Linked DNA regions of Homo sapiens. Each later gene encodes a partner of the first gene's protein in a complex. Each region holds a gene or a part of one and is shown on either strand. Other genes may lie near its edges. A codon is read from its position in the direction of its gene.

Region 1 (7,523 bases):
GGCTGGAGTGCAGTGGTGCAATCTCAACTCACTGCAACCTCCGCCTCCCGGGTTCAAGCGATTCTCCTGCCTCAGCCTCCTGAGTAGCTGGGACTACAGGCATGCGCCACCATGCCCAGCTAATTTTTGTATTTTAGTAGAGATGGGGTTTCAGCATGTTGGCCAGGATGGTCTCCATCTCTTAACCTCGTGATCCGGCTGCCTTGGCTTCCCAAAGTGTTGAGATTACAGGTGTGAGCCACTGCACCCGGCCTAAAGTTTTTTAAAATAAACTTCCACTCCTGCTCTGAAGCTTGCCTCGGTCACTTTTTCTGCCTTATGCCCCCAGTTGAATTTTCTTCTGAGGAGACAAGATTGAGGTTGCTGCAGGTGTCTACTGATTTGCCACTGGTAACATATTTGGTGCCACGTGACTCAGATGGTAAGGGATCTCTATGCCTCGCTTTCTTCTGCTGGAGGCATCTGATCCCTGTGCAGTTTTTCTTCTCCTCCCTCTCTCCTGCTTACTAAACAACCCCCAGAACAATTCCTCTTGGCCATACGTGACTCTGCTCTCTGCCAGTTGATTTCTTAGCTCACTCTGGTGGGTGGCTCATGGGAGTGGGAAGGACCCTAGGGTCTGCATCAAGCAGATCAGAGGCACTATATGGCCCTCCTTGATAGGAGGCTTGAGACTGGTGAGGCTAGGGCCTAAAAACCGTGCAGTGTCTGGGGTTTCCTCTGCCTTTTTTTCCAATGAAAATAACGAAACCTGTTATTTCCCATTGAGGGGGAAAAAGGCGGGAGAAGCCCCAGCAGAAATGAAGCTGCTCCTGAAGCTTCCAACATGAAACTCACCTCGGCACTGGTAAAAAGAGGGCTCAACCTGTCTCTAGATTTACAGTCTAATGCTTGCTCTGCCATTTTACCCTCATACTTATGTTCATCAATCATTGATGAAAAAGAAAAGAAAAAAAAAATGACTGGAATAAGGGCACCTTACTGGTAAGAAAGAACCAAACCTCAAACCCGTACCTTCTATGTCATGGTGTTCTGGGTATCAGCAATAACAACAGTCACCCTTTTACTGAGCATTTACTCATGTTAATTACTGGGTGTATTAGAGTTCTTCAGAGAAACAGAACCAATGGCATATATTTACATCTAGAAAGGGATTTGTTATAAGGTATTAGCTCATGCAGTTATGGAGGCTGAGAAGTCCCATGATCTGCTGTCTGCAAGCTGGAGACTTGTTAGCAGGAAGGCTGGTGTTGTAGCCTGAAGGCCTGAGAGCCAAGGGTGTAGGTTCCAGCCTGAGTGTGAAGGCCTCAGCACCAGGAGCACCAAGGGCAGAAGATATCCCAGATCAAGCATGCAGGAGGAGACAGGACACATTCTTCCTTCTTTGGCTTTTTGTTCTATTTAGGCCCTCAACAGACTGGATGCTGCCCACCTACTTTGGGGAGGGCAATCCACTTTACTCAGTCTATCCATTCAAATGCTCATCTTTTCTGAAAACAACTTCACAGACACACCAAGAAATAATGTTTAACCAGATATCTGGGCATCCGTGATCCAGTCAAGATGACATGTAAAAGTAACTATCACACTGGGCTAAGCATTTTACATGCAAGACTGCAATCCTCACTTAAACCTGCAAGGTAGGTGGTGTTAGCCTTATTTGCAGGAGGTGAAACCAAGTCCCTGGGAGGTTTGAGTAACTTGTCCCAGGTCACACAGCACAGTAAGTGGGAGAGATGGAATTTGGATCCTGGTCTGAAGCCCATGCTCAGTCTCCTAACCACTTGCTACCATCCCTCTGCCTCATTAAGATAAATTCTGAGCTAAAGATGAACACTGAACGAGTGGTAAGCAATCTACTACCTGCTGAGTTCAGTTCCCTAGGGTCAGTACTGTATTTACTTTCACATTCACTATTCTAATTCACACTTTGACCATGAGCTCAACACTGGGAACTAATCTGAGGGCATAAAGTAAGGCTTTTTCCCCTACTTGTCTTACAAAAGTGATCCTGTTTACTGTGAAAGATTTGCAAACTACAAAAAAGTATAGTTCCTCAAAAAAATAAACATAGAATTACCATATGATCTAGCAATTCCCCTGCTACATATATACCCCAAAGAATTGAAAGCAGGGACTCGAACAGATATTTGATACTCATGTTCATAGCAACATTATTTACAACAGCTAAAATGTAGAAGTAACCAAAATGTTTACCGACAGATAAGTAGATAAACAAAATGTGGTCTATACATGCAATGGAGTATTATTCAGCCTTAACAAGGAAGGAAATCCTAATGCATGCTACAGCATGGGATAAACTTTGAAGACATCATGCTGAATGAAATAGTCACAAAAGGAAGAATATTGTGTTACTCCACTTACATGAGGTTTCTAGAATAGTCAAATTAATAAAGATGGAAAGTAGAAAGGTCATGGAGGGAAAATAAGGGAGTTGTTTAACTACAGTTTCAATTTTGCTAGATGAAAAGAGTTCTGCCAATGGATAGTGGTGGTGATGGTTGCACAATGTGAATGCACTTCATGCCACTGAACTGTATCTTTAAAAATAGTTAAGATGGTAAAATGTATGTTATGTATCTTTTACCACCATAAAAAAAGTATAAAGAAACAGGAAAAAAAATTGGCTATGGTATCTCAGTGCAACTCTGTTGATATGTTCACATGGTCTTTCTGAGTCTTTTTTCTAATCTTAGCCTTTTGATGGGTCTTTTTTGACAGCTTCCTCTCTTCTCCATTACAGGAACATGTTTTTGCAGTTGTGCGACCCAAAGAGGCCATTTCAAGCTGCCCCATCAGATGTGGAGCGCTGATGTGTAAGTATTACTTTAATATCCATGACATGGCTGGGTAGACAAGAGACTCCCAGGAAAGACCGAAATCACAGAACACGATTATGGGCAATCTGGGCTCCTGGGGACCTTTAGGGCACGCCATCTCGTACTGATGAAGGATCACTGATTTATCAGATGTTACCCTGCTTAAACAGAAGCAGCCTATTAGCGCAGCTCACACCATTCCTAGAATCAAACATATCCAACCCACCCCCCTCATTTTACAGAGAAAAATCAATTGAGAACCGCAGATCTTATTCCTAGAAAGCTGATGAACCCTGTTTCTCTCGCAATGGGAAGACCTGGCTGCCCCAGGCTGCATCCCCACCTGCCACAGGGGCTGGCGCTCGCTCTGCAGTTGGCCGCAGTCCCCTCCACTCTTCTCTCCAAATAGGCTCGGGTCTTTAACCTAGACTACCCCACTGGCCCCGAAGCATTTTTTTTTTTTTTTAGATAGGGTCTACCTCTGTCGCCCAGGCTGGAGTGTGGAGTGCGGTGGCGCGATCTCGGCTCACTGCAACCTCCGTCTCCTGGGGGCATGCGATTCTCCTGCCTTAGCCTCCTGAGTAGCTGGGACTACAGGCGCGCACCACCACACCTGGCTAGTTTTTGTATTTTTAGTAGAGATGGGATTTCGCCATGTTGGGCAGGCTGGTCTCGAACTCCTGACCTCAAGTGATCCACCCATCTCGGCCTCCCAAAGTGCTGGGATTACAGGTGTCCGCCACCACGCCCGGCTAATTTTTGTACTTTTAGCAGAGATGAGGTTTTGCCATGTTGGCCAGGCTGGTCTCGAACTCCTGACCTCTGGTGATCCACCCGCTTTGACCTCCCTAAGTGCTGGGATTACAGGCGCGAGACACCGGGCCCGGCCCCCCGCCGAAGCATTTTTAACTGCGGTGCCGGCTTTAAAAAAACTTTTAGGTCAAGAAATGCGCTCCAGAAGCTCGGCGAGGGTAGGCTGGGCAGGCGCCTTCCGTCACCGGCGCAGCGGTAGCGGCAGCGGACATCCCCGCCTGGGCAGGCCCAGGTCCGCGGAAGCCTCGGGGCCCTGGCCCCACTGTGTCACACACCGCCCGGGGCCGGGCCCCTGCACGCCCGCGGGCTTCGGCGTCCGTACCGGTACAGCGGGCGGCGACACCTACCTCGCGGGACCGTGCCCAGCACCCGGCCTGGCACACAGCGGGCACCCGGTCGGGGGGCGGTGTCGCGCAGTCCCAGCGAAAAGGCTGCAGGAGCAATGACAACAGGGGCGGAAGCCCCCTCCCCACGCAGCCCGAGGGGCCGCGGCGGCCACCCGCGCCGGGCCCCAGGACCCCGCACCTCAGACTGGGGTCGCGTGGGTGGCTGCGCGCAGCTAGGCGCTCGCGCATGCGCACCGCCATCCAGGCCACGGAATGAGGCCAGAGGTTAGATGGGTTGAACCACTACGGGAAGGGGAGGGGAAGCTTTGGGAGGAGTGATGGAGGGTGGAAAGCGGAAGAAAAAAGCAAGATGGGACCGCAAGCTGGACGTGACTGTAAGGGGTCATGGCTGCGGAATCCAGCAGGGGCATTGGGGTTGACGTGCACTCAGCGCCGAGCTTCTTCGTAGTTCCTCACCCCCTTGGCTACTATGGGCTGGTCCGGAAGGTCAGGCAAGGGGAAGCTGCGCAGGCGCAGTGTGAGCGGCAACATGGCGTCCAGGTCTAAGCGGCGTGCCGTGGAAAGTGGGGTTCCGCAGCCGCCGGATCCCCCAGTCCAGCGCGACGAGGAAGAGGAAAAAGAAGTCGAAAATGAGGATGAAGACGATGATGACAGTGACAAGGAAAAGGATGAAGAGGACGAGGTCATTGACGAGGTGAGAAGGACACGCTCCCCTAGTTGGTTTATACCTGAGAAAAACTTTTTGGCAAGCCCAGGCTGTGTAAAAATAGTGTAGGGTCTTCCCTGACCCTGAGGGTCTGTGAGGAGAAACTGGAGATAAGTTCTTTCTCAGGTTTCTCCTCGGTCTTTAACACACTGCAGCCATAGTAGTTATTTTTTAAAGGTCTAGTCCGGTCCAGTTAATCTCCCAACCCGCGTCCTCCCCGAAAAAGCCCGCCACAACAGGTGTGTTCTTCTCGTCCTCTTTAGTTCTCAGGCTGAAGCCTCAGATCCTGAATCGGCCACCCCGGGCTCGCAGAGGGGGCCCTCTCCCCTCGGGGCAGCAGCTGTCCTCCTCTTCACTCTGCGGGCGGCACTCACTTGGGCCCTCAGTTTCTTGAAGGCTCTTGCCGCGTTCTACCGTAGAAGCCTTTTCAAATGCTCTTCTTTATCCTGCAGTTTTCCCTTCCTTCTTCAGATCTCAGCTAGGCTGTATTTTCTGGCTCCTGGGGCAGCTGACCAAGTCGTGGGTAAATCTTTGGTTTCATAGTCTCATAGAACTGTGTTCCTTTCTTCAGACTAGGTCCTACCGTAGTGCCTGGCAATATAGGTACTTATTATTTGTTTAGTAAACAATTAGGACTGAATGATCCTTCAGCCTACTGAATGTTTAAATAGATACCTCAGCCTTAACTTGTCCAAAGCAGAATTTGTATAATAATTCATGCCCCTCTCTTAATCGTCACCATTTCTATAAATGGCCCCTAAAGTCACCAGCTGCTCTAACCCAAAACCTGGGGCTTAACTTTAATTCCTCCCTTTCCTCATCCTATATCCAGCCCATCAGTAAATCCTGTTATCCAGACATTTCTCAGCACTAATTCTGAGACCATCGTAGTCCACACCTCTATCATCTCTTGCCTGGACTACTATTTAATGTAACAGCTTTTAACCGGCGTTCTTTTCTCCATTTTTGTTCCCCTACAATCAGTCTATACTCCACTTACAGTCAGAGAGATCTTATAGGTCTGATCTCAGGCCTCTGCTTAGATTGCTGCATTGGCTTTCTAGTTCATTTACAAGAAAATCAAGAGTCTTCACAATTGAGGGACGGAAAGGCAGCCTAGATGGCTGGATCAGAATAAGGAAGAGAGAGTGATAGGAAATAAAATCAGAGAGGTAATCATGAGTCATGATGAGCATGGAGGGGAGCATGGAGAGAAGCATGGATGCAGGATTAGAGGTGACACCATGGTGTGGGTATGTGATCAATCTTCCTTCCCTTACAAATTTTACTTTGGCTCTATGCCTTGAATGCCATCTCACCATTTTTCACTTAGAACTTTGACTGGCTCTTTTATTACTTTTGGGTTATAGAAATCAATGCTGCTTGTGTTAACATGGGAAATCTATCACACCACCACAGTCTTAATTCTAAATCACCTGGGAATGAGGGACAGGGCTCTTTTCTACAAACGTGACTGTTCCTGCTGAAGCCATGTGGAGATGAGCCCATACCCAGGAAAAGGGTGCTGGACAGATAATCCATTTGCCGCCCATTTCCCTGGTGGTGCCATAATAGTCTGGGACAGAGGTCCGAGATGTCTGTCTAGACAAAGAAAAAAACACTAGATGAGCATTATTTACAGAATGTATTTATATCTAAGGAATAAGTTTAAGTCCTGAATAATGACAGTTTGTTATTTGGTTTAGTTTGATCCTGTTTGGAACACTCCCACCCGACCCCTTGTGTTTTGCTGCTCACATAATCTGGCTAAGTTAGCATTTGAAGTCTGCAAAGCTGGACTTAAAGAGTTCAAATTGGAGCTGGAATTGCTCTAAGCAATTCCAGGGCCTTGCAATTTTACAATTAAGGAAGACTTAAATATATACATAGTCAGGGTGGCAAGGTAAAAGGAGGTCTGATTTCCTCTGCGATGTTCTTCAGCTAAGACCTAAATTCTGAAACCGTTAAAACCTGAAGTGCCTTTAAATATATTATTTCATCAGAGCCCCAGGTTCATTGTGTCACTTATCAAGGTCTGATTTAGGGTCCTCAAGGACTAATCTTGTTAGTGTTTAAAAGCAACTAGGTTTTGTTTTTGGCATTTTAGTTCCATCTTCTAGATTCTGTTGTCTTGCAGATAGAGATCAGGGAGCCCAGCTACACATTCATTCTTCTAGTCCCTTGTACTCATTGTATTTCCTTCTGCCTTAGGGCCTTAGTTTGTGCTGTTCCCTGTACCAGGAACTCTCTTTGCTGTTTCTCGGTTTCTTGCTCAAATGTCACTTCAAGGAAGGCTTTCCTGACTGACTTCTTATTTTTTAAGTTGTTACAACATTGTGTACCTTTGTTTTATAGCACTTACATTTATTTCTATGAATATTTCCTTAATGCCTATATTCCTTCCTAAATCGTAAGCTGCACGAGAGCAGGATCATTTGTGTCTGCCTTACTAACCTTTTCATCTTGAGTGCCTGGCACAGTGCTTGGTACCTGGATTGATACTTAATAAATATTTGCTAAGCAAATGTAGTGTAACCTCAAATCCATGGGCTAAGTCAAGCTCTAGGCAATTCCAGGGACTTTTGAAGTGATTTTGATTTTTGCCCACCCTTGTAATCAGGAAAATAATTTATCCTTTGTGGCTGCCGTGTCTGGTTTATTTGAACTGGACTTTCTCAACATTTAAACTAGGTTACTCTGAGTGTTTTGTTTTCTCAGGCTTTTGTGTCACCTGAAGAAATAGTGTGAAGGTGCTTTGTATTCTTCACAGATGGCAATCTTGGCAATGTTTGCCTGTTTTAAAGTCTAGATGTTTGT
Region 2 (5,867 bases), on another chromosome or scaffold:
AGACCGTCCGCAGTCGGCTGGAGGAGGCAGGCATCAAAGTGCACGACGTCCGGCTGAATGGCTCCGCAGCTGGCCACGTTTTGGTCAAAGACAATGGCTTGGGCTGCAAAGACCTGGACCTAATCTTCCATGTGGCTCTTCCAACAGAGGCAGAATTTCAGCTGGTTAGAGATGTGGTTCTGTGTTCCCTTCTGAACTTCCTGCCAGAGGGTGTGAACAAGCTCAAAATCAGTCCAGTCACTCTGAAGGAGGCATATGTGCAGAAGCTAGTGAAGGTTTGCACGGACACTGACCGCTGGAGCCTGATCTCCCTCTCCAACAAGAACGGGAAGAACGTGGAGCTGAAGTTTGTCGACTCCATTCGGCGTCAGTTTGAGTTCAGTGTGGACTCTTTCCAAATCATCCTGGATTCTTTGCTTTTCTTCTATGACTGTTCCAATAATCCCATCTCTGAGCACTTCCACCCCACCGTGATTGGGGAGAGCATGTACGGGGACTTTGAGGAAGCTTTTGACCATCTGCAGAACAGACTGATCGCCACCAAGAACCCAGAAGAAATCAGAGGCGGGGGACTTCTCAAGTACAGCAACCTTCTTGTGCGGGACTTCAGGCCCACAGACCAGGAAGAAATCAAAACTCTAGAGCGCTACATGTGCTCCAGGTTCTTCATCGACTTCCCGGACATCCTTGAACAGCAGAGGAAGTTGGAGACTTACCTTCAAAACCACTTCGCTGAAGAAGAGAGAAGCAAGTACGACTACCTCATGATCCTTCGCAGGGTGGTGAACGAGAGCACCGTGTGTCTCATGGGGCATGAACGCAGGCAGACTCTGAACCTCATCTCCCTCCTGGCCTTGCGTGTGCTGGCGGAACAAAACATCATCCCCAGTGCCACCAACGTCACCTGTTACTACCAGCCGGCCCCTTACGTCAGTGATGGCAACTTCAGCAACTACTACGTTGCCCATCCTCCAGTCACCTACAGCCAGCCTTACCCTACCTGGCTGCCCTGTAACTAACCTTGAGACCTGAGGGTTTCCACAGTGGGAACCCCAATAGGGCTAGGGCTCTCAGGTAGGGGAGCCTCCTTCTAGATGTAGGCATTTGGCTTTTAAAGGGGAACTCAGCTCTGATTCTGCTTTTTTTTTTTTTTTTCCTTTGTGTACCCATTGGAATGGGTCTACAGTGTATCATGAGCCAACCCTCAAAGGACCCGTATTACAGTGCCACGTTGGAAAACGCTACAGGAAGCATGACCTATCCACATCTTTCCAAGATAGACACTAACATGTCATGTCCCAAACATTAGCACGTGGGGGTTGAGCTCTGTGCAGTAATCGAGATTGGGAGAATTTGGGCAGCGCGTGAGAAGTGCTAAGCTACTTGTTTTCTCACTTGAGCCCGGGTAGGCTGTGTTGGCCCTCACTTGGGATTCTCAGCAGTTACATGAAAGTTGTGCTGATAATCTCTTCTCTTGTACCAATTTTAGTCAGGCAGAAAATGGTAAACATGAGGGTGCTCTTGTGACTTAATTTTTGTTCAAGGGACTAAATTGCTTATGTTTATTCCCTGTCAGCGGAGTGGAGAATGTCATTCATCAATAAACCAAAGCCAATAGCTGGAGAATTGAGATCTGGTTGAAAGTGGTTTATGGTTTACATGCTGTACTATCCTGAGGAATTGCGAGATATTGCTGAGGGGAAAAAAAAATGACCTTTTCTTGAAATGTAACTTGAAAACAAAATAAAATGTGGAACATAATGTTTAATTAGAATTGTGGTGGTGGTAGTGGAAGGGGATAATTGTAAATAGGAAACATGAATGTTCATTTTTTTCTTTAAAGAATTCTTATTAAATGGCTCCCTGCCTTTTTTTTCTTTTTTCCTCATCAGCTCTTTCATGGCTGAATTTTGTTTTATTCTTCCTAAGACTGAGGATTGTGCTGAGTCCAGAGTCATTGTGGTAACTGACATGAGGGTCTTCCCATGTTTTAACTGGAAACCCACTTTGGTCACATTCCAAGTATGACACAGCTGTTCTTCTGGAGTACTTTAGCTATTTTTTGTTTTTGTTCTTTTCGTTTTTTTTTTTTCCAAAAATAGTGACTTCCTTCTCCAGGTGTGTTTGACAGCAACTCAATTCAGGAATTTCGGTAGAACTGAGTGACCTGTGGAACTGCTTTAGAATCTAACCTGCTGTCTTCGTGCTCTGTGTGAAGGGGAAGCTGGGGGGTTAGCATGAAGTCTGGCCTTGTGTGCATTGGAGCTTCCAAGGCACTTTGAAATCATTCCAGTATATTTGGGAAGAATTGAGTGAATGAGAATGCTCTTCCTTATTCTGGTAGATTTGACTTGTTTATAATTCTGCACTTTAGAAGAAAAACAGTGTTAATCTGTAGTTGAAAGAAAGCTTAGTAGATGAGAGAGTTCTAGGCTACTGTGGCTTTTTCCAGTAGATTTAGATGAGATTATGTGTTTTGAAATGTTTTGTGGGATCCCTTAGAAAGCATCACTTCAGGGCAGAGACACTCAATATTGCCAGCCAGCTTGGGTTCTAAAGTGATTTAATCAAATTCATGCTCCTGATCTTTTTTTTCCCCCTTCCTTTGGCTATGAAAACCCAAAGCCCGGAGTGATTGTTTTCTCCTTGCTTTAAGCAGTGAAGTTATCCTAATGCAAAAGAGCTTAGTAGAAAATGAGTGGTTTACCTTTTTTTCTAAAAGTATATTTTCAAGTTTATTCTGGAATGTGATGTCTTGGTCCTCTTAAAAGCAGATCAGCCATGACTGAAACTCAAGGCTTAGCTGGTATCTATGTTGTGCTACATTAGGTGACTAGAAGCCACTTCTTAGTGTAATCAGCTCCTGTTTCCCTGTGAGCCTTAGTTATATTTTAATTCAGTGGCTTTGAGTCAAGGCCGGTTCTAATTGAGGGGACCCAGTGTGCTTCAGTGTTAAGAGTGGGGCAATGAAGAGTGAACCCCAATGAAGAGTGATCCCAACTTTGGAAACTATCTGGTCATTCATGACCTTAAAAAGCTGCCATGGTGGTCAAATGGCATGTGTTTGCACAAAAATGACCGATGTGTTTAACCAAAGCTTTGAAATGTGATGAAGCCACCAACATAAGCACTTGCCTAACAGAAATCAGTATTTCTTCTACTTAGAAGGCTTGGGGCCCAGGGTAATGAGGCACCAGATGAAGATAAGATCTGCATCAAGGAATTAAATTTCCAGTTTGTCCTTGGGGTTCTTTCTGCTTATGTTTTTTCCCCCCCATCTGGTAATAGTCCTCTTCTGAGAATGAAAGGAGGCACAGAAGTTGCGAGAAAGACCCAGTCCCCAGTCTTTGCCACCATTGCACCATGGTTGTCTCGGAGTCCCTTCACCTGACCTTTTTAGTCAGCTCAGATCTTTTTGTAGTTTGAGAATAGACCTATTCAAGAGCTATCAGGGTTAAAAGCTGCACTGACCAAAGCTGTACTTTTAAAACACAACCCCTGGGCTAGTGATGTCTCTACTTGCTCTATGAGCCTTTTGCCAGCCTCAGAATAGGCGAGGTAACCTTGAATTTCAGGGCCCTGGAAACTCTAGCTGAAACCTGCCTTTCCTAATGCTCACACAAGCACCAGGTACCCTGAGCTTATACTGAGTCCAGTGGTTCCTATTTTATGTGTGTGTGTATGTGTGTGTGTTGAGTAACATGAAACTTGGCAGTAGCAGAGAGCACTGAAGTTCACATGCAAGTTCTAATCTAAAGTTAAGCAGTCTCTTATTTGTTTCGGGACTCTGATTTGACTCTTTTTCTGATGCTTTCGGCATGTCTGCAGCCTGTTCTCCTAGCCTGCTGCTTGGAGTCAGGTTGAGCATCAGTGAGATGAAGACAGTACCTTTTCCTCTCACATTGGCAGAATAGCACGCACTAGATGCCTGACCTTGAGCTCTAGTCTCCCCTTTAAATCTTACCTTGGCAGTAACACATTATTCCTCATTCAATAATTTCAATGCTGAAACTGAACTCTATTACTAATGCCTTCCAATCAGAGTTCCTGATGGGGATGCCTGTGGGATGGCCCACACCTGGGGGACCTGGCAGATGGGGTGAGTTGGGTAAGGAAGATGATGCTTAGTTCCTGATAGATGCTACAGATGTAGTTTGGCATTTCAGTTTTTGTCCAGTTTGATTTTCACTGGGGTTTGAGTCACAGCAAGCTGTGTATGAACTTGTGTTTTGTGGTGACACATTAATAATCAAATTGCTAAAACCCTGAATCTGCTTATTCTTCAGCTTCACCTCTGCACTAACCCCTTACCCTTATGGTACGTCAGGATTTTAACTAGTACTGCTTTGTTGACTTTGGGAAATGGTGCCACTCAAAAGCAACTTCCTAACTTGAGGAATAACTCCTTTGTAGTTTACTTTCTGGTACTGGTTGGTGCCTTGTATTGGGATACAGCTATATTCTTAGCTCAAATGTCCTCTTTTTGAGAGCAAAGTAGTTATCCAATGGTGAGACGAGACCCTGACGCTCATAGAGGCCATTCCTTCCTGGGTGTCGGACCAGGGCTCTGTGTCAGGGAAAACCTTCTGGGTGGACTTTGTAAGAATCCAGTTTCCAAGGTTAGATTCACATCCTTAATCTTGCAGAGACTAGAATTTCACAGCTCGCTTTGGAACATATTCCAATTCAACCAGTTAAAATCAGAGGACCAAGTCGTGGGGGAGGGGGGCGGTGTTGAGGAGAGGTATTTTTAAAGATCTGGCAACTTTTCAGGATTATTTGTGGAGAACTCTAAGGTTAAGATCAGGAAATAAAAGACTGTGTGTGTGTGTGTGTGTGCGTGTGTGTGTTCAAGTGCCTAAATCTTGTTTACCTATCACTTTAAAAAAATAATTGAAGTGTAAGCTAAATAAAATGCTTGGAGTTTTGCCTGGGCTAGTGAGAGTTGGTGCAAATTCTTGTGTGTGTTTGCATAGGAAGGTGAGATGACCATCTACTAAAGAGGAAGTAGCTAAATACAGATCTGTGGGTGTTTTTAAAAAAACTCAACCTATCTGGTGTTTTATTTTAATGGATAAAAATGTAATTTTTCTAAGGTAGCAACTTATTTCCAAATTAATATAGATGAAAAATAGATACCAATTAGACTAAATTGAAAGCTTTTTGTTCTATATTTGCATAGCCTTTGAAATATTTCTTAGTGCCTAGGAGGTCTGGGGATTCCTCTTTCGTGGTGGTCACTAACCTTACTTGATGCAGATAAAATCACTTGTCAATGCAAAATGTGTTAGAACTTGATAAAGCTTTGAGTTTGAGAAATAAAGGTATATTTAAAATTTAAATAAAACTTGTCATTTATGCTCATTGATTTGTTTCTTCTCAATGATGAATTTTAGGTTTTAGGAAACATTGAATAGAAATAGGAAGCTGTCAACATCAGCCTTGGATGCTTCTCTGAAGGACAGATGCTTTTTTGAGGGGGGAGGGCTGTGTGGTTACCTTGGAGACCACAAATCCCTTAATATTTGGGCTCTTTTTCAAGGTGCCCAGCTAACTTAAACTAGGCTTCGTTGTTGACCACAGCCTTTCAGCTAATACCCACGGCAGGTGTAGTCTTGCAGTTCGCCTTTGCTGGCACCTTGTTTAATTCAGTCCCTTTAGCTCCTAGCCCACTTCAACAACAACAAAGAAAACAACTTCAGCCATACATGTACAACTACTGTAGTTTCTTCACATTTTTAAAGAAGTATAGAAGTGAACAAGTGATACTTGGAGTGGTTGATAGATGTTTGAAGGGTATAAAGAGATGCTGTAGACTTTGGTTAGCAACCTTCCTCCTCATTCCTTTGATCTAATTCACAACAACC
Region 3 (6,967 bases), on another chromosome or scaffold:
GTGCATGGGTCTGAACCAAGGCTCTGTGATTTCTCTAAGTTACTTAACCTTCTTATGCCCTATCTTTCCTATGGAGATATAATGTGTACAGCTCTGGTTTTTAGAGAAAGTTTAGAAAAAATAATGTATATAAAATATTTAGCAGAGTTTCTGGGATATAATAACAAACTCAATAATAATAACTATCATTAAGGCCGAAGCTGAACATCTTATTTTGCTAAGTCCAGATTGATTGTTACTGTAACTTTAAAAATAAGATGAACTAATTATAAGTGTTTCTTTCTCAAAATTCTATGCAAAGCTTTCCTTTAAAACTTTCAGGATAAGGACTTTTTTTCTGCTCGCTTAGAAAGCAGTTTAAATTTAGGCTGTCCGTATTTCAGTTTTGTGGTGGTCTTAACTTTATCAACTAAGAGCTTCATATTGCCACAGGTGTTTTTTTTTTTCCTTTTAAGTGGGAGAAAGTAAATAATTTATCAAATAGGTTCAGAAGCTAAAGCCTGGGGGAAAAATTTAGCAACTTTGCATCTAAATTTAATCTAAGAGTAACTGTGTTGAGAAATATCTTAGTTGTGAATGTATTTGGAAAGTATAGGCGTTCTCATTTCATAATTATTTTGGTTATCTAGAAAAAAATTATGGTTTCAATAGCAGAATATGCAATTTTATTTAAGGATGGATATTTTTTCCTAGAATGTAAATATTATTTCAGTTTGAAGACAGGAAAAAGTGGGACAGTGAACAACATATGCTTTCATTCAACAGTATGTAATGATTGGTCACTATGTATCAGGCACATATTAATCCAGTCAAAGATTAAATTGCCCACAAAGGCATTGCCAAAAGTAAGATATCCCAGATGTCCCAATGCAGGAGGCAGTAGGGTCTGGATTATGGTTGGGAAAGGGGGAATGTTTTGTTAAAGGTTTAAGGAAGTGTCAGCCACAAAGCATTGGATGCTTGGGGGAGAGGCGGTCTTGGCACACTGCTGCTGGGATTATCTTCTTCTCCCCAGCACAGCATATAGCACGTAAGCGGGCCCTGCAAGTCCAGCTTCATGCTGTGCTTCCACCTCTCAGTTGTGCCCTCCATTTCTGGGAATGGCCATGGGATCAGCCTTTGCTTGGGGGAGGGTCCCCACTTAGAGAACTGGACTATGGTGGCTGTTCTCAGTGCAGCGCAAAGTGTGGCTGGGCCCTTGTGTCAGGATCACCATGACAGCTTGCCAAAATGCAGATTCCTTTGGTGCTACAGAACGAAATCCTGGGTATGCATAGGCAGGTGTCCATCAGCTCTAAGAGTCTTCTTTATTTTCAGTTTTTGGAGCAAGGGTAAAAATAAAGTACAAAATAATTGTAGTAGAGCTAAACACACACACATGCACACACCCTTGGTTTTTAAAGTACAGCGTGTCTAATATACGATCTATTACTTTGGCTTTGTTTTAAGAAGGGGCAGAATTCATACCGGTCTTTGAAAGAAACATTTTTAACAGGTCTTTTTTCTTTTCTTTTTCTTTTCTCTTCTCTTTTCTTCTTTACTCTTCTCTTCCCCCCCTTTTCTTTTCTTTTTCCCTTCCCTTCCCCTCCCTTCCTCCATTTCCTTTTCTTCTTTTCCCCCTCCCCTTCCCTCCCCTCCCCATCGTTCCTTCTTCCTATTTGTGCTTGTCTTGTTTTCCAATAAGAAGGTACTGATAAGCTACAGACCACTCGTTACCCCGTAATGACCACTAAACAGCATTCACAGCCAAATGGGTTGGGTTAAAGGCCTGACCCCACAACTTATTAGTTGTGGAACTTGGGAATGTTTCTTAACTTCTTGGATTCCTCTGTTTCTAGATCCCTAGGAGATGGAAATACCTTCTTCTTGAAGATTAAATTAGGTATTATGTTAAGGAGCTAAACAGGTTATAGCCCAGACGTGTTCAATAAGTTCCTGGTACTCATAAACCTTATCTCAAGGCACTACCAATCTCATTTATTAATCACGGGAGTGTACATATCCTTCCTCAAACATTCTCCAACTCCATACGCTTCCCTTTGTAGATAACGCTCTTCTCCTCTTTCCCCGACTACTGAAAGAACATCCATTCTTTCAAGATCCAGTCCAAATGACACCTTCTCGGGTGTCTCTCCGTTTCCTATGTAGTTAGCCCGCCACGCGATTGCGTCAGAATATACTTCTCTCATAATACATATGCAACTGAACCATAATTATGCACCTAGGTGCTATGCCCTCTAGATTACGTGAAATGTCATTCTTAAATCTTCAGCACTTAGCCTGTTGCCTGGCACGTAACAGGTCACTAAATGCTCTCTCTATACACATGCTCACACAAGAATATGCATATGTATATATATGTATAAAATGCCTGGTTAAGATAGATTCATGCGCCGATGGCTGGTCAGAGGAACACATGGGTGTGCTCTGAAGGAAGCGATGGCCCTATGCGGACAGGGTAGTTGTCCTAGAGTCCCCAGGCGCACCTCAGTGCTTAGGCGCAGCGCTGAGGGGATGGCCTCTGCCACAGAGACAGTCGGATTTCTCCATTTTGGGACGCAGCTCGGCAGGGCACCGGGAGGGGGCGGCGTTGTCACGCAGCTGGATGCTCCACGGGTGACACCCCCGCACCCTACCCCTCACCCCCGAGCCGCGCAGCTTGAGTGACTAGGCCGGGGCTCCCCCAGTTAGGAGGTGCGGGCTGTTTTTCCTCCCAGTCTGGGCGGGCAGGGCTGAGCAGGGTTTGGGGAGTATTCTGTGACCCTGGCATTCTCCCCTCTGCCCCACCTCAGCCCCCGGCAGCGTCTAGGCGCTGGGAAAGCTGCTCCGGGTTAGTTGATGGAGGCAGCGAGCTGCCGAAGAGACGGCCACAGCTTTCTAGCAAAGAGTGGTGGTGGCGCGAGTGAGCGTGCGTAGAATTAGCTCTGCCGAAGTCACCGAAGCTGGAGGAGAGAATTCATTTTATTCTTGAAACTCCTACTTTTACGTCTCGTGGAAAACCAAATCGTATTCCACTGACACTATGATGCACTTAAAATGGCCAAACTTTAGGGGGCCGCGAGGAACGCGCTTCGCCGCCTCCAATTTTGTCAGAGAACTCGCAGCAAAGGCACCGGACACCTAGCGGCCCTTTCCCTGGACTCCGGGGCAGCACGCACTCCCCGGGCGCGCTCTCTGCGCCCACTCGGCCCGCCCAGTCCTCGGCCATTGGCTGCTCGCCCGCGTCTGCTCCGTGACGCGCCCTGACCCCCGCGAAGTACTGGCCCCTTGGAGCCACTCGTGCGCAGGAGCCGCGCACGCCCGAGGCCCGTGGTGCCGCCCCCGCGCCTTCTCGGGCTCGCCCAGAGCTCCCCGGCGCGCTTCCCGAGGTTTCGAGAATCGAAACCCAGTTATCAACAAGCCCTTCCCACTCACGCGCCGTGACTGATTTGCGTGCAAGAGTGGACTCATGAGTCCACACTTGGATCGGGTTTATCAATGGAGTAAATGGTCTACCTAAAAACCGAGGTTTAAAAGAGCGGTCGTGAGGAACCTCCGGAGCCCAACCGTGATGATCTAAAGACGGGCTGAGTCCGCGAGAATTTTGGGAAGTTTCTGCAGTTGCAGGATTTTAGTCGTGATCTGGTTTTGATGACCACTTATGATTCCTGGGGCATTTAAAGTGTCTCCTCCTGGGGAAAATGAAAAGAGATTTGTGGGAGGGGGCGTACATAAATTAAATGTATGTATAAATACACGCATCTACGGGCGCACACAGTATCCGCACATACAGCCCAGGACCTCACGCTCACCGGCAGTCGTCCCGCACTAACTGCTGGGCTAGTCAGCTGCGTGCCCTGCGGGCGGGGGAGGGCAGAGGGGGCGGCGCCCTATGCAGATGAGGAGGGTGTGGCGAACGTGCCGCTCTGGGCCCCGGAAGCGCAGAGAAGCCCGGTATAAAAAAAGTACTGAAGACATTTTCCCCGCACAACTGCTAAAGCTCCAGAGACACGAGCGTGTGTGGCAGCAAGAGCCGCCAGTTCGGGACCACCGCAGCTGGGGTGGCAGCGGCGCAGGAGGGGTCGCGGGGAGGGAGTGGTGAGCGCAGGCGGCAGGGGTCTGGGAAAGACGAAGTCGCTATTTGCTGTCTGAGCGCGCTCGCAGCTCCTGGAAGTGTTGCCGCCTCTCGGTTTCGCTCTCGCTCGCTGCGCTCCTAGAAGGGGCGGCCGCCTCCAGGTGACACAGACGGGACTCTCGCTTGCGCTTTCCAGATGCATCAGAGATACTTTTGGTGCGGGGCTGCTCTGCGGGGCGCGGTGCGCGGCTGGGGACTGTAAGGGCCGGGGGAGGGAGTCTCCGAGGAGGCCCGGGGTCAGGGAACTATCGGGGGAGGGGGCGCTCTTTTCCTGGCGGGCCTCTGCTCTCCGCCGCCGCGCGTGCTCTCCGCCGCCGCGCGTCCTCACCGCGCTCCTTTCCCTTTCTTTTTAGGACTGACCAGGGCCAAGTGGCGCTCGGCGGGCACTACATGGCGGAGGGTGAAGGGTACTTCGCCATGTCTGAGGACGAGCTGGCCTGCAGCCCCTACATCCCCCTAGGCGGCGACTTCGGCGGCGGCGACTTCGGCGGCGGCGACTTCGGCGGCGGCGACTTCGGCGGTGGCGGCAGCTTCGGTGGGCATTGCTTGGACTATTGCGAAAGCCCTACGGCGCACTGCAATGTGCTGAACTGGGAGCAAGTGCAGCGGCTGGACGGCATCCTGAGCGAGACCATTCCGATTCACGGGCGCGGCAACTTCCCCACGCTCGAGCTGCAGCCGAGCCTGATCGTGAAGGTGGTGCGGCGGCGCCTGGCCGAGAAGCGCATTGGCGTCCGCGACGTGCGCCTCAACGGCTCGGCAGCCAGCCATGTCCTGCACCAGGACAGCGGCCTGGGCTACAAGGACCTGGACCTCATCTTCTGCGCCGACCTGCGCGGGGAAGGGGAGTTTCAGACTGTGAAGGACGTCGTGCTGGACTGCCTGTTGGACTTCTTACCCGAGGGGGTGAACAAAGAGAAGATCACACCACTCACGCTCAAGGTAACACCACCCGAGATGCACTTGGGTCCTGACCCAGTCTGGGCCGGGTGTGACGGGGAGCGGGCAGAGGGGCATCGGTTAAATGCCATGAATCTGTGGCCATCACGAGTTTGGGCGCGCGTTATTTCTTTGATTTTTGATTTTTTAAACCAGTAAACTGACGTGCGTGGACGGTGTTGAGTGTTTCAGTTTACTTGATGCTTTGGCGCTACAACTCTTCTCCCAGGTCCTCCTCTGCCCTCTCTTCTCTTCTTTCTCCTTATGTTTTAACTCTTGGCTTTCCCTGTTGGAGTCTTGTCCAGAGTAGATTCTGATACTTGGCAGAATGAAATGATGTAAATAATTTTTGAGTCATTATATTTGAGTCTAGCCTTTGGGAAAATAACAGCCTGAAGCAGAAGTGAGTCAATGAGTTTTTTATTGTACTGGAAAAGGTGAATAGATTTCACAGCGGCATTCAGCTGACTACGTGTTAAAGGTCTATCTGGTGGTTCTTCGTGCTGGTTCATATGTTAAGGGTATAGTGGCACCCCCTCCCCACCCTCCACTTTAGTTCAAGACGGGTTTTATATGATTAGTTAAAATTGTCTGAGGAGGCAGGCTCCTGGAATGTCATAATTTAGTTTATATTTGATTGTAACTGCAGGGTGCCCCTGGAGGGACACACAAGATACTGATAACATTGATTGCCGCAGGCGGAGAGGAATTGGGTGGCTTGGAACAAGGGCGAGAGGCTGACTAACCTACCGCTGAATGCCCTTCCGAGTCTTTTGAATGTTGTTTGGATACTGTGTGAATATTGTGCCTATTAGACCGTTTTCAAAAAGTAACACTTAAAAAGTCAGACATGACAACAAAACCTCTTACTACTGTGCTACGTCTGCCAAAAGCCTCAAACTATTACCTCTAGTCCCTTTCCCAGACAGTAAAACTACTCGTTAAAAGTATTTTTTTTCTATTTTCAGAAGACCGTTTAAGCCTGTAGGTAGTGTTTGGCTGAAACTTGACAAAACAAAAGGGAAAGAGCAAAATAATTCTCAGCTGTGAAGAGGATGTATTTATTTATTGATTTATTATTTTCTAGGTTTGCTCATTTTGTTTTATCTTTTAAATTGTAGGAAGCTTATGTGCAGAAAATGGTTAAAGTGTGCAATGACTCTGACCGATGGAGTCTTATATCCCTGTCAAACAACAGTGGCAAAAATGTGGAACTGAAATTTGTGGATTCCCTCCGGAGGCAGTTTGAATTCAGTGTAGATTCTTTTCAAATCAAATTAGACTCTCTTCTGCTCTTTTATGAATGTTCAGAGAACCCAATGACTGAGACATTTCACCCCACAATAATCGGGGAGAGCGTCTATGGCGATTTCCAGGAAGCCTTTGATCACCTTTGTAACAAGATCATTGCCACCAGGAACCCAGAGGAAATCCGAGGGGGAGGCCTGCTTAAGTACTGCAACCTCTTGGTGAGGGGCTTTAGGCCCGCCTCTGATGAAATCAAGACCCTTCAAAGGTATATGTGTTCCAGGTTTTTCATCGACTTCTCAGACATTGGAGAGCAGCAGAGAAAACTGGAGTCCTATTTGCAGAACCACTTTGTGGGATTGGAAGACCGCAAGTATGAGTATCTCATGACCCTTCATGGAGTGGTAAATGAGAGCACAGTGTGCCTGATGGGACATGAAAGAAGACAGACTTTAAACCTTATCACCATGCTGGCTATCCGGGTGTTAGCTGACCAAAATGTCATTCCTAATGTGGCTAATGTCACTTGCTATTACCAGCCAGCCCCCTATGTAGCAGATGCCAACTTTAGCAATTACTACATTGCACAGGTTCAGCCAGTATTCACGTGCCAGCAACAGACCTACTCCACTTGGCTACCCTGCAATTAAGAATCATTTAAAAATG

What was found. The genes of interacting proteins can lie anywhere in the genome.
Region 2: the proteins of BCCIP (region 1) and TENT5C are in contact, whole or in part, in a cryo-EM structure (PDB 8EQB), measured with the Homo sapiens proteins. Residues at the interface, in NP_510868.1 of Homo sapiens: Val57, Asn58, Ile59, Glu60, Phe61, Glu62, Ala63, Tyr64, Ser65, Arg136, Gln146, Cys153, Lys155, Ala204, Gly205; in NP_060179.2 of Homo sapiens: Asp90 (codon at 111), Asp92 (codon at 117), Glu102 (codon at 147), Gln106 (codon at 159), Arg109 (codon at 168), Lys135 (codon at 246), Glu136 (codon at 249), Val139 (codon at 258), Gln140 (codon at 261), Lys141 (codon at 264), Leu142 (codon at 267), Val143 (codon at 270), Lys144 (codon at 273), Val145 (codon at 276), Cys146 (codon at 279), Thr147 (codon at 282), Asn164 (codon at 333).
Region 3: the proteins of BCCIP (region 1) and TENT5A are in contact, whole or in part, in a crystal structure (PDB 8EXE), measured with the Homo sapiens proteins. Residues at the interface, in NP_510868.1 of Homo sapiens: Val57, Asn58, Ile59, Glu60, Phe61, Glu62, Ala63, Tyr64, Ser65, Leu66, Gln146, Val149, Leu150, Phe152, Cys153, Glu154, Lys155, Asn156, Cys157, Glu158, Lys159, Glu163, Lys167, Leu203, Ala204, Ala206, Thr225; in NP_060103.2 of Homo sapiens: Arg87 (codon at 4,763), Gly88 (codon at 4,766), Asp139 (codon at 4,919), Glu151 (codon at 4,955), Gln155 (codon at 4,967), Lys158 (codon at 4,976), Lys184 (codon at 5,054), Glu185 (codon at 6,175), Val188 (codon at 6,184), Gln189 (codon at 6,187), Lys190 (codon at 6,190), Met191 (codon at 6,193), Val192 (codon at 6,196), Lys193 (codon at 6,199), Val194 (codon at 6,202), Cys195 (codon at 6,205), Asn196 (codon at 6,208), Asp199 (codon at 6,217), Trp201 (codon at 6,223), Asn213 (codon at 6,259), Arg289 (codon at 6,487), Lys295 (codon at 6,505), Glu331 (codon at 6,613), Arg334 (codon at 6,622), Gln341 (codon at 6,643), Asn342 (codon at 6,646), His343 (codon at 6,649).

The regions. Positions count from the first base shown.
Region 1 is NC_000010.11:125,819,029-125,826,551, forward strand, and holds the start of BCCIP (BRCA2 and CDKN1A-interacting protein), read left to right. Parts: upstream 1-4,517; 5' UTR 4,518-4,529; coding exon 4,530-4,694; intron 4,695-7,523. UniProt on the Homo sapiens protein: During interphase, required for microtubule organizing and anchoring activities. During mitosis, required for the organization and stabilization of the spindle pole.
Region 2 is NC_000001.11:117,623,026-117,628,892, forward strand, and holds the end of TENT5C (terminal nucleotidyltransferase 5C), read left to right. Parts: coding exon 1-1,019; 3' UTR 1,020-5,364; downstream 5,365-5,867. UniProt on the Homo sapiens protein: Catalyzes the transfer of one adenosine molecule from an ATP to an mRNA poly(A) tail bearing a 3'-OH terminal group and enhances mRNA stability and gene expression.
Region 3 is NC_000006.12:81,749,679-81,756,645, reverse strand, and holds the start of TENT5A (terminal nucleotidyltransferase 5A), read left to right. Parts: upstream 1-3,964; 5' UTR 3,965-4,215; intron 4,216-4,467; 5' UTR 4,468-4,504; coding exon 4,505-5,056; intron 5,057-6,174; coding exon 6,175-6,951; 3' UTR 6,952-6,967.